2 separate regions of the Homo sapiens genome follow, and region 1 is linked to region 2. Evidence: fine-mapped expression QTL. A gene starts in region 2. The other region holds a variant in brackets. All regions are shown on one strand. Distances are from middle to middle.

Region 1 (4,381 bases), 130 kb after region 2:
CACAGCGAGTGAGGGCAGGGAGGTACCTGGGAGCAGTGACCTCAGAACAGAAAACAGGACAGAGCAACCAGGAGCGCCCCGGCACACACACATGCTGCCCGCTCCAGCAGCAATCCAGCTTGGGAGGCCCCGTCAAGGGCTTAGCCCCTCATCTCATTAGACAGAGGGCGTTCCCCAGGAGATGCTGGGGGTAAAGGCTGCGATATTATATTGGCCATCAGAAAGTCCTACATTCCGTGGCCGGGGACGGTGACTGACTTCTGGAATCTCAGCACTTTGGGAGGCCGAGGCAGGCAGGTCACTTGAGGCCAGGAGTTCGAGACCAGCCTGGCCGACATGGCGAAACCCCACCTCTACTAAAAAATACAAAAGTTAACCAGGCATGGTGGCACATGCCTGTAGTCCCAGCTACTTGGGAGGCTGAGGCAGCAGAATCACTTGAACCGGGAGGCGGCTGTTGCAGTGAGCTGAGATCTCACCACTGCACTCCAGCCTGGGTGACAGAGCGAGACTCAAAAAAAAAAAAAAAAAAAGAAAAGAAAAGAAACCCCTTCTACATTCCTTGGCCTCTTCCTGCCACTCCCCACCCACATTTCCTCAAAATACTTTTTCCACAAAAGAGGCTCTAATGTTTGAGACCAAGACAACATAGGTGCCCAGCTCCCCTCAGAGTCTGACGTGGGTGCCACGGCCTGGCCCTCCCCTCAGCGGTTGTGTTGGGGGTGGCTGAGGGTGGGCGGGATGTGCAGTCCCTGAATGCCACTGATGGGTGACTGCCCCTGCCCCGCCTCACACTGCAGAAGGAGTACATGGACCAGCTGTGGTTTGAGAAAGCGGAGGGGATGTTCTGTGTCGGCCTACGGGCCACCCTGCCCTGCCACAGGCTGATCTGCCGCCCACCATCCCTGCAGCTGCCCATGTGTGCTGTGGGAGATACGACTGAGGCCTTTTTCTGCCTGGATAATGTGGGGTGAGGAAGAGGCTGAGGTGCGGCGGGGAGAGCAAGAGCTGTGAGGAGGGTGTCTGGAAGCAGGAGAGACAGGCATACCCTTGTCGGGGTAGGGTAGTCTGAGGTTCTGCCCAGCATCCCTGACTTGCTACTGCAGGAGCAGGGGCCGGGAGCCCAGTGCCCTGACCTGCCCCCCACCCCCAGGGACCTGCCCACCTTCTTCACCTGGGAGTTCTCCAGCCCATTCCAGATGCTGCCCGCCACGGGGCTCCTGGAGCCAGGCCAGGCCTCTCAGATCAAGGTGACCTTTCAGCCCCTTACAGCCGTCATCTACGAGGTGCAGGCCACGTGCTGGTACGGGGCGGGCAGCCGGCAGAGGAGCAGCATCCAGCTGCAGGCTGTGGGTGAGGCCCAACCTCCCACCGTCCCCAGACTGGCCCCTCCTGCACCTTCTGGGTCCTCCAGGCCTCAGTGTCCCCCACCTCCCATCTGGCCTGGCCCCCGCCTCCACCGGCCTCCTGCCCTCCCCCAAGCCCAGAAGGCTTTGCCTTTTGTCTTCCATGATGTTACAGGCTAAATTTTCCCTGGGGCCACCTGCCTTCTTCGAGGGGCTGTTCAGCTGGGGCCACAGAGGCCCTGGTGGGTTCCCCCAAGACTCCCCCATCTCTGCCCCAGCCAAGTGCGCCCAGCTGCTGGTGAGCATAAAGCACAAGTGCCCGGAGGACCAGGATGCCGAGGGCTTCCAGAAGCTGTTGTACTTTGGCTCTGTTGCTGTGGGCTGCACCTCGGAGAGGCAGATCAGGCTACACAACCCGTCGGCGGTAGGCACCAGGCAGGAGGGGCGGCAGGACTCACGCCCCCAGGATTGGAATTTCCTAAAATCACCGCCTTGCAGAATGCCCCCCCTTTCTCTCCATGCCTTTGGCCCCAAGCCTCATGTAACCCATGTCAGCTGTCAACAGGTGTGTCCTTCTCCTCAGCTGGGGGCTGGGCTGGGGTATACCCTGGCTCCCCAGAGCCACGAGCAGCCCTAAGACTGTCCTGACCCCAGGACCACAGTTAGCTGTGATGGTACCCTGGGGAGAATTAAAAGGTGCCCCCTTTGGGCAGGCCCAGCGCAGGGCACATGACTCGGTCCCTTCTCTCCTCCTGGTGGAGGCAGTCTGGCCAGTGGGGCACAGGCTGGATGCCAGCTGCCCCCACCCCCTTGGCTAGGCACGCCAGTACAATGCGTAGACTGTCCCATCATACAGTGCTCTGCTCTGTGACCTGACCCTTTGTCCTTCTGCTTGGCCACACAGGTAAATGCCCCCTTCAGGATTGAAATTTCCCCGGATGAACTGGCCGAAGACCAGGCCTTCTCATGCCCCACGGCCCATGGCATCGTGCTTCCGGGAGAGAAGAAATGTGTGTCGGTGTTCTTCCACCCCAAGACTCTGGACACCAGAACTGTGGACTACTGCTCCATCATGCCTTCTGGCTGTGCCTCCAAGACCCTGCTTAAAGTCGTTGGTTTCTGTAGAGGTACCGGTGACCCCAGGGGCCTCCCCTGGGGACAGGAGCAGCCCCTGCTGAGGATTCTGAAGAGCTCCTTCCCTGCTCCTAGGAGGCGGGGCCACCTTGCCTCAGCCTGGGTGTCTGCTGCCCCCTGGTGGCCCT[G/A]TGGGGAATCATCCGTGACTACCTGGAGATCCCAGTCCCACTGGCATCCAGTGATGCTGGAGTTCTGCTCAGGCTGCCAGGGCTCTGGGCCTGTAGCCTGGCCCTGAGAGTACCACCTCCCTTCAGTGGAACTTTGTCTAAGATATCCTTGGGGAAGCTGATACCCCATCTCCTGTGTCCAGGCCCTGCTGTGTCCCTGCAGCACTACTGTGTCAACTTCAGCTGGGTCAACCTTGGGGAGCGCTCCGAGCAGCCCCTGTGGATTGAGAACCAATCGGACTGCACGGCCCACTTCCAGTTTGCCATCGACTGCTTGGAGAGTGTCTTTACCATCAGGCCTGCCTTTGGGACGCTGGTGGGCAAGGCCCGTATGACCCTGCACTGTGCCTTCCAGCCCACTCACCCCATCATCTGCTTTCGGCGTGTGGCCTGTCTCATCCACCACCAGGTGAGTCGTGGGGAGGGCATGAGGCTGAGGGAGGAGGGGCTCCCCTGGGGCCCACTGATGATGACAAGGCTTGGTGGGCACTTCCCTGTATTCTGGAACTTCTAGGGCTGTCTGCCTGGTGGTCTCCCACTCCTGGGCCCCAGCCCTGGCTTTTGGAGCCAGTGTGCAGCCTGGGCACAGGGCAGATCACTCTGTGCCAGTCTTGCCCTGCTACCAGGCCAGGCGCTTTGCTGCTGCTGTGCTCATGGGCTGGGAGAGGGAGGCTTGGACTCGCAGCCTCCCACCCTCCCGCTGAGCCCTGCAGGCTTTGCCTTTTCTTTGCCTTCCATGACTTCACAGACTAATTCTTCCCTGGAGCCACCCCACATAGCATGCATAGGGCAGAGAGCTTTCAAGTTAGACCCCAACCCTAGGTCCCTGGGCATGATCAGACACATTGTGCCCTGACCAGCAGGTGCCTGGCCAAGATGGCAAACGGGGCTGAAATGTAACCCATGATCCCTCCCTGAGCTGGTGCCCAGGCTTGGGCTGTGTCTGTGTACCTGGAGGAATGGGTGCCTTTCTCTAATTCTTGTGACAGTTTAGTATGGGCTGGGGGAGGCCTTGGAAATGGAGGAAAGAACAGAAGCCCAGAGGGAGGCCTGATGAGGCAGCCCCCCATATTCTCCTCCCTTGGGAGGGCCTGAATTCTAGTTTGGCAGGCCTCTGGGCTGGCAGTAGGGTGGGTGGGAGAATGCCCAGGGGCCATGGCAGAGAGGAAGGGTGGGTAATGGCTGAGTGTCCTAAGGACCGGGGTGCTCTCTCCTGACCTTCCCTGGACTCCTGCTGTGCCCTGGCTGAGCCAGACCACTGCTGAGTGCTTGCTCACTGGCCACCTGGAGCTTCTGCCCCACTGCCTCTGTTATCCTGTCTGCCCAGCTTCTGTCCTCAGTTCAACCCCCAGCACCCCCCTTGCCCTACCACCCCTCCCATGCCCCACCACACACAGACAAATGTCACAGGACCCACTGTTCCTGGACCTGATGGGGACCTGCCACTCGGACAGCACCAAGCCAGCCATCCTGAAGCCTCAGCACCTCACCTGGTACCGCACACACCTGGCCCGGGGCCTGACGCTCTACCCCCCTGACATCCTGGATGCCATGCTGAAGGAGAAGAAGCTGGCACAGGACCAGAACGGGGCTCTCATGATTCCCATCCAGGTACAGTGCCCTCCCCAGCTGCATATCCCTTCTCTAGTGATTCTTGGGCAATCCCATGCCCCCAGGGTCCCATGGGCACCATTAGTAGTCAGGGCGACTGGTGTAGCCTTTCTAGACAGGAGT
Region 2 (4,381 bases):
GTCCTGTTCAGCACAGGTAGGTGGAAGGGAAGAGGCGTTGCTCAGTAGCAGGAAAGCAAGTTGAGGCTTCAGGCTGCCCGGACTCCTGGCCCCACAGCCTTCTCTGGGCTTTGGTGTAAATACTTCATCCATTTGTTTAACAGATATTTATTGAGCACTATGCTAGCCATTTGGAATACAAAGATGCCTTCCGTTATTACAGCGTAGTACAAGAGATGAGATGTGTAGGAAAATAACAGGAAAGGTTCAGATAAAGAGCTACAGTGCTCAGTGGCAAGAGAGATAGCTTCTGTTTGAGGTGATCCAGTAACAGAGCTGGTCTTGAAGGATGGTAAGTTTTAAACATCTTTGGTGAGAAGAAGGTCATTCCTGATGGAGGAACCATCATTTATGCAAAGACACAGAAGTGGGAAGTCTTAGGATATGTCCTGAGAGCAGTAAATTGCTTAATTTGTCTCACCCAGTTCTCAACTGGGTGATTTTGCCCCCATGGGGACATTTGGCAATGTCTGGAGACATTTTTGGCTGTTACAAATGGAGGAAGAGGGAGTTGTTACTAGGGTTTAGTGGATAGAAAGATGCTGCTAAACATCCTACACTGTACAGGACATCCCCCCTGCACCACCACCCCCAACAAAGAATTATCTGGTCCAAGATGTCAGTAGGACTGAGGTTGAAAAACCCAGGATAGAGCATAGAGGGTAAAAAATGGGAGATGAGGTTGGGACTTAAATATTACGCTTTCTAGAGAAAGGGAACCTGGAATAGTCAAAGCATATATGGAGGGTGTGTGGATGATCAGAACACAGGGTGTTGAGCAGGAATCCTGTGGGAAAGGCCTGGATTTGGAAAGTGGAGAGTAGAAAGACAAAGGGTGAGAGGGATGAAATGACAATTCAGAAAGATCTGTCCTTAGTCCAAGGCTTAGGTTTAGGTCTGGGAGGGTAAGACTCCTGGGCTTGGATATAGGATCAGAGTTCCCTTCCTGCCTGGCCCCAACTCTTCATAGGCTGGAGCCCCTTGGATGTATTACTGCACTCACTGCTGACACAGCCCATCTTCCTGGCTGGACTCTCAGGCTTCCTACTAGAGAACACGATTCCTGGTAAGTTGAGGCTAGGCCCTAGCAGACTGGGGAGTGGCCAGGAAGCCATCCCTCCCTGGGATGGGCAATAGCCTGACAAACCTCTCTTTTGCAGGCACACAGCTTGAGCGAGGCCTAGGTCAAGGGCTACCATCTCCTTTCACTGCCCAAGAGGCTCGAATGCCTCAGAAGCCCAGGGAGAAGGCTGCTCAAGTGTACAGACTTCCTTTCCCCATCCAAAACCTCTGTCCCTGCATCCCCCAGCCTCTCCACTGCCTCTGCCCACTGCCTGAAGACCCTGGGGATGAGGAAGGAGGCTCCTCTGAGCCAGAAGAGATGGCAGACTTGCTGCCTGGCTCAGGGGAGCCATGCCCTGAATCTAGCAGAGAAGGGTTTAGGTCCCAGAAATGACCAGAACGCCTACTTCTGCCCTGGTTAATTTAGCCCTAACTCTCATCTGCTGGAGAGTCAGCTCCCAAACTGTTCTTTCTTGTAGGCAGAGGATATGTGTGTGTGTATTACATGGGACTGTCTAGAGGTTCCATTTCCCAATAGGGTGGGTTGCCTTTCCTTGTCTTAATTAGGCCTAACTGTTCCAGAGCAGAGGCCATGATTTAGTGGACCATGAATGATTGAGATTTTGCCTGTGTACTATCAATGCCACTTGAACCCCAGCATTCACTTTAATACTTACTGAGCATCTCCCATGTGCAAGGTCCTGGAACTACAGGGATAAGACAGGGTCCATGCCGTCTCAAGGCATTTACGGTTTAAAAAGACCTTTGTAATTACTAACGAAAATGCAAAGCAGAAAGCAGTCTGTAATAAAGATTAAAATAATGCCGTGGGAGCAAAGAGGAAGGGATAATGAATTCTGATTGGGGACAGTGGGAAAGGCTTTATGCAAGAAGCAATGAGGATGGCCTTGACAAATGAGGATTTTTGGTTTTGGAAAATGGATGCAGAGAAGTTTTCAGGTTCGGGGTCCAGCTTGAGCAAAGCCATGGGTTGTACAAAGTCCAAGATAGGTGAGGGGTTTCAAATTTCTCAGTAGTGAGGGAGTATAAGTACGGGGATGATGGAGAAATGAAGCAGGAGAGGTAAAGGATGAGGTCGGACTATGGGACTTATGCCTGGGAGACTCCTTCCTTCAACAACTCTAGTGCTGGTGGAGGACCTGAGAGATCATCTACAGAAGTTCAATCCCTTATTTTGTTAAAAAGAGACCGGATAGGTAGGGGAGGGAAGAGAAGTGACTCAAGTTTGACAAATCCAAACCTGGGCTCCCCTCTCCTGCGCCTCGCCCGCTATTCTTTCCACTCGGCCAGCGTGACTCCAAGACGCGCCACTACCCTTCTACTAGCCGGCTGCCCGGCCTCTCCTCCACTTACCCTGGCCACTGGGGCGCTCCTCTCATCAGTGTCCCAGGCCCAGAAGCCCCGCCCACGCCAGGCATAGGCCCCGCCCCTGTATCCCAAGACCCTGCCTCCTCTTGCGGTGGGGGGAAAGCGGCCTCTTACTCTAGGCCTTTCGGTTTGCGCGAGCGGGCAGGAAAGCGTGCGTGCGGCTAAGAGAGTGGGCGCTCTCGCGGCCGCTGACGGTAGGTGGAATCGCGTTCGAGTCCGGGCAGGAGCAAGCCAGCGAGGGGCTGCTCAGACGCTGCGGGTTGGCCCTGGCGCTGGCCTTTTCTCCCTGGAGGGAGCGCGCGCTGCCGGGGTCCAGGGCAGGCCTCCGGGGGAGGGGTGGGCGGGGCCGCGCGTGCGCAGTCCGCTGGCTGCTGCCCGGCGTGGATGGTAGGGCTCGAGTGAAGGTACTCGTTGGTCGCCTGTTTGGTGCGACGAAGCCGCTGGTGGCCGGCTTTGTTGCCCCTTGAAGCCGCGCCCCAGTGCAGCCAGTGCTGTAGAAATGGGAAGGCGGACAGCGAAGGCTGTTATAGCTGGGGCGGGTGGAAGCGGGACGCCTGGCGGCTCCTGGGGTGGGGCTATGGTTGTGGTGGGACCTAGGGTTCGCGCTGTCCCAGGGGGACCGGGCGGGGCCCAGCCGGGATGCTCTCTGGGCCTCTACTGCCCTCTGCAGGGCGTCGGAGGAACTGCCCAGAGGGGTCACTGCTGAGGAGCGGACTCGGTGCAGATAAAGGTTCTCAAGGGACCCCTCCGCCGGGATGCCGCTCAGCGCCCCTCCACTCAAGAGAAATAAACCCGTGAATCTCGTTAATGTGAATGTTAGAGGCAGCCTTGAAGGAAAAAAGAAAAGGATGAAGTGTAGAAGCTTCGGACGCAGAACGGGACGCGTGTGGTGGGAGCAGGCAGCCGGGGTCTGGTGCCCAATGTGTCAGGCCTTTTTATAGGGCCCGTTACTCCTGGCCACATTTTAAACTCCTCCCCCTTTACCCAACAGACAAACAAAACCCATCAATTTGAGGGTTCTGAGCTTCCGGGCTTTCCGAAGGAATGGGCTAGAATAGTAAACCCAATTTTGGCAACTGTTAAGAGTACACTGGGGAGTGCCTATAAGGGAGATGAAAGTGGCGACTTTATTCGCGTTTGTGACCTTTGGCATTGTGGAGCTCTTGTCCGGCTAGGACTAGCTTAATCATCCCATGACCACTTCTGTCCCCATAAGAGCAGCATGTGGGAAATGTGACGGAAACACCATCCTCCAAACACAAGGCTTTGAGGATGCCATAAAGAAAGATCACCACGTATATGTATATATATGCATATATATATATGCATATATATATGCATATATATATGCATATATATATGCATATATATATATGCATATATATATGCATATATATATAAAGTTATGTCACAAGTCACAAGGGCACACTTCAAAAGCTAGGGGAAATGACTGTGTTAATCAGACTTAATAAGGAATTTCATTATTTACATTCTAAATTTTTCCTTCCTGGTACTTCTGTTCATTTTATATTTGTAGACTGGAATAATGAAGGAAATTGACATATTTTTTTCTCCCCCACAGGAAAAACAATCACATTCTCTGTCAAGCAGCCGTAGTTCTGATTGTCTACTAGGTTAAGCCTACTACTTTAGCTGCTGAGATAGAAAAGTTGTTTTGCAGGGGTTCCAGGCTGGGCATGTTGTCATTGGTGGCAGTGCACTGGAGTGGGAATGTGGAGGATGAGTTAAGTGGAAGTTAATTCAGTCTTTACCTCTGTGATGTGCTCTGCCTTGTATTCATGATTTCCTAGTCATTCTGGTTTTTGTTGAAATGAAATTTAGGTCTTTTCTGTTGCTCCTGGACACAGGTTCTTAGCTCTTTTTTGTGTCA

Which allele goes with the higher level. Positions count from the first base shown, and alleles are read on the strand shown. Sizes are in standard deviations (SD) of each study's normalised expression.
As copies of A replace G in region 1, the expression in lymphoblastoid cells of the gene that starts at base 2,589 in region 2 goes up (small effect, 0.37 SD a copy in GTEx).

The links. PIP is the estimated chance that this variant, and not a neighbour inherited with it, causes the effect. A credible set is the group of variants that fine-mapping cannot tell apart.
Region 1: its variant is the best candidate, but not a certain one, in a credible set for the expression of NHEJ1 in lymphoblastoid cells (GTEx, PIP 0.77).

Annotation. Positions count from the first base shown.
Region 1 is chr2:219,028,078-219,032,458 of GRCh38, reverse strand. CFAP65 (cilia and flagella associated protein 65) reads left to right here. Exons shown (of 35, transcript NM_194302.4): 7 at 801-970; 8 at 1,154-1,353; 9 at 1,625-1,770; 10 at 2,251-2,473; 11 at 2,791-3,056; 12 at 4,058-4,258. Among named protein-coding and RNA genes, the nearest start is that of CFAP65, 11 kb to the left of the region's middle. RefSeq lists an enhancer at 2,658-2,847. The variant G/A (reference allele first, on the strand shown) is at 2,609.
Region 2 is chr2:219,159,023-219,163,403 of GRCh38, reverse strand. NHEJ1 (non-homologous end joining factor 1) reads left to right here and starts at 2,589. Exons shown (of 8, transcript NM_024782.3): 1 at 2,589-2,684. SLC23A3 (solute carrier family 23 member 3) reads left to right here. Exons shown (of 12, transcript NM_001144889.2): 10 at 1-16; 11 at 1,010-1,105; 12 at 1,200-1,939. The coding sequence ends at 1,495. RefSeq lists a silencer at 2,805-2,924.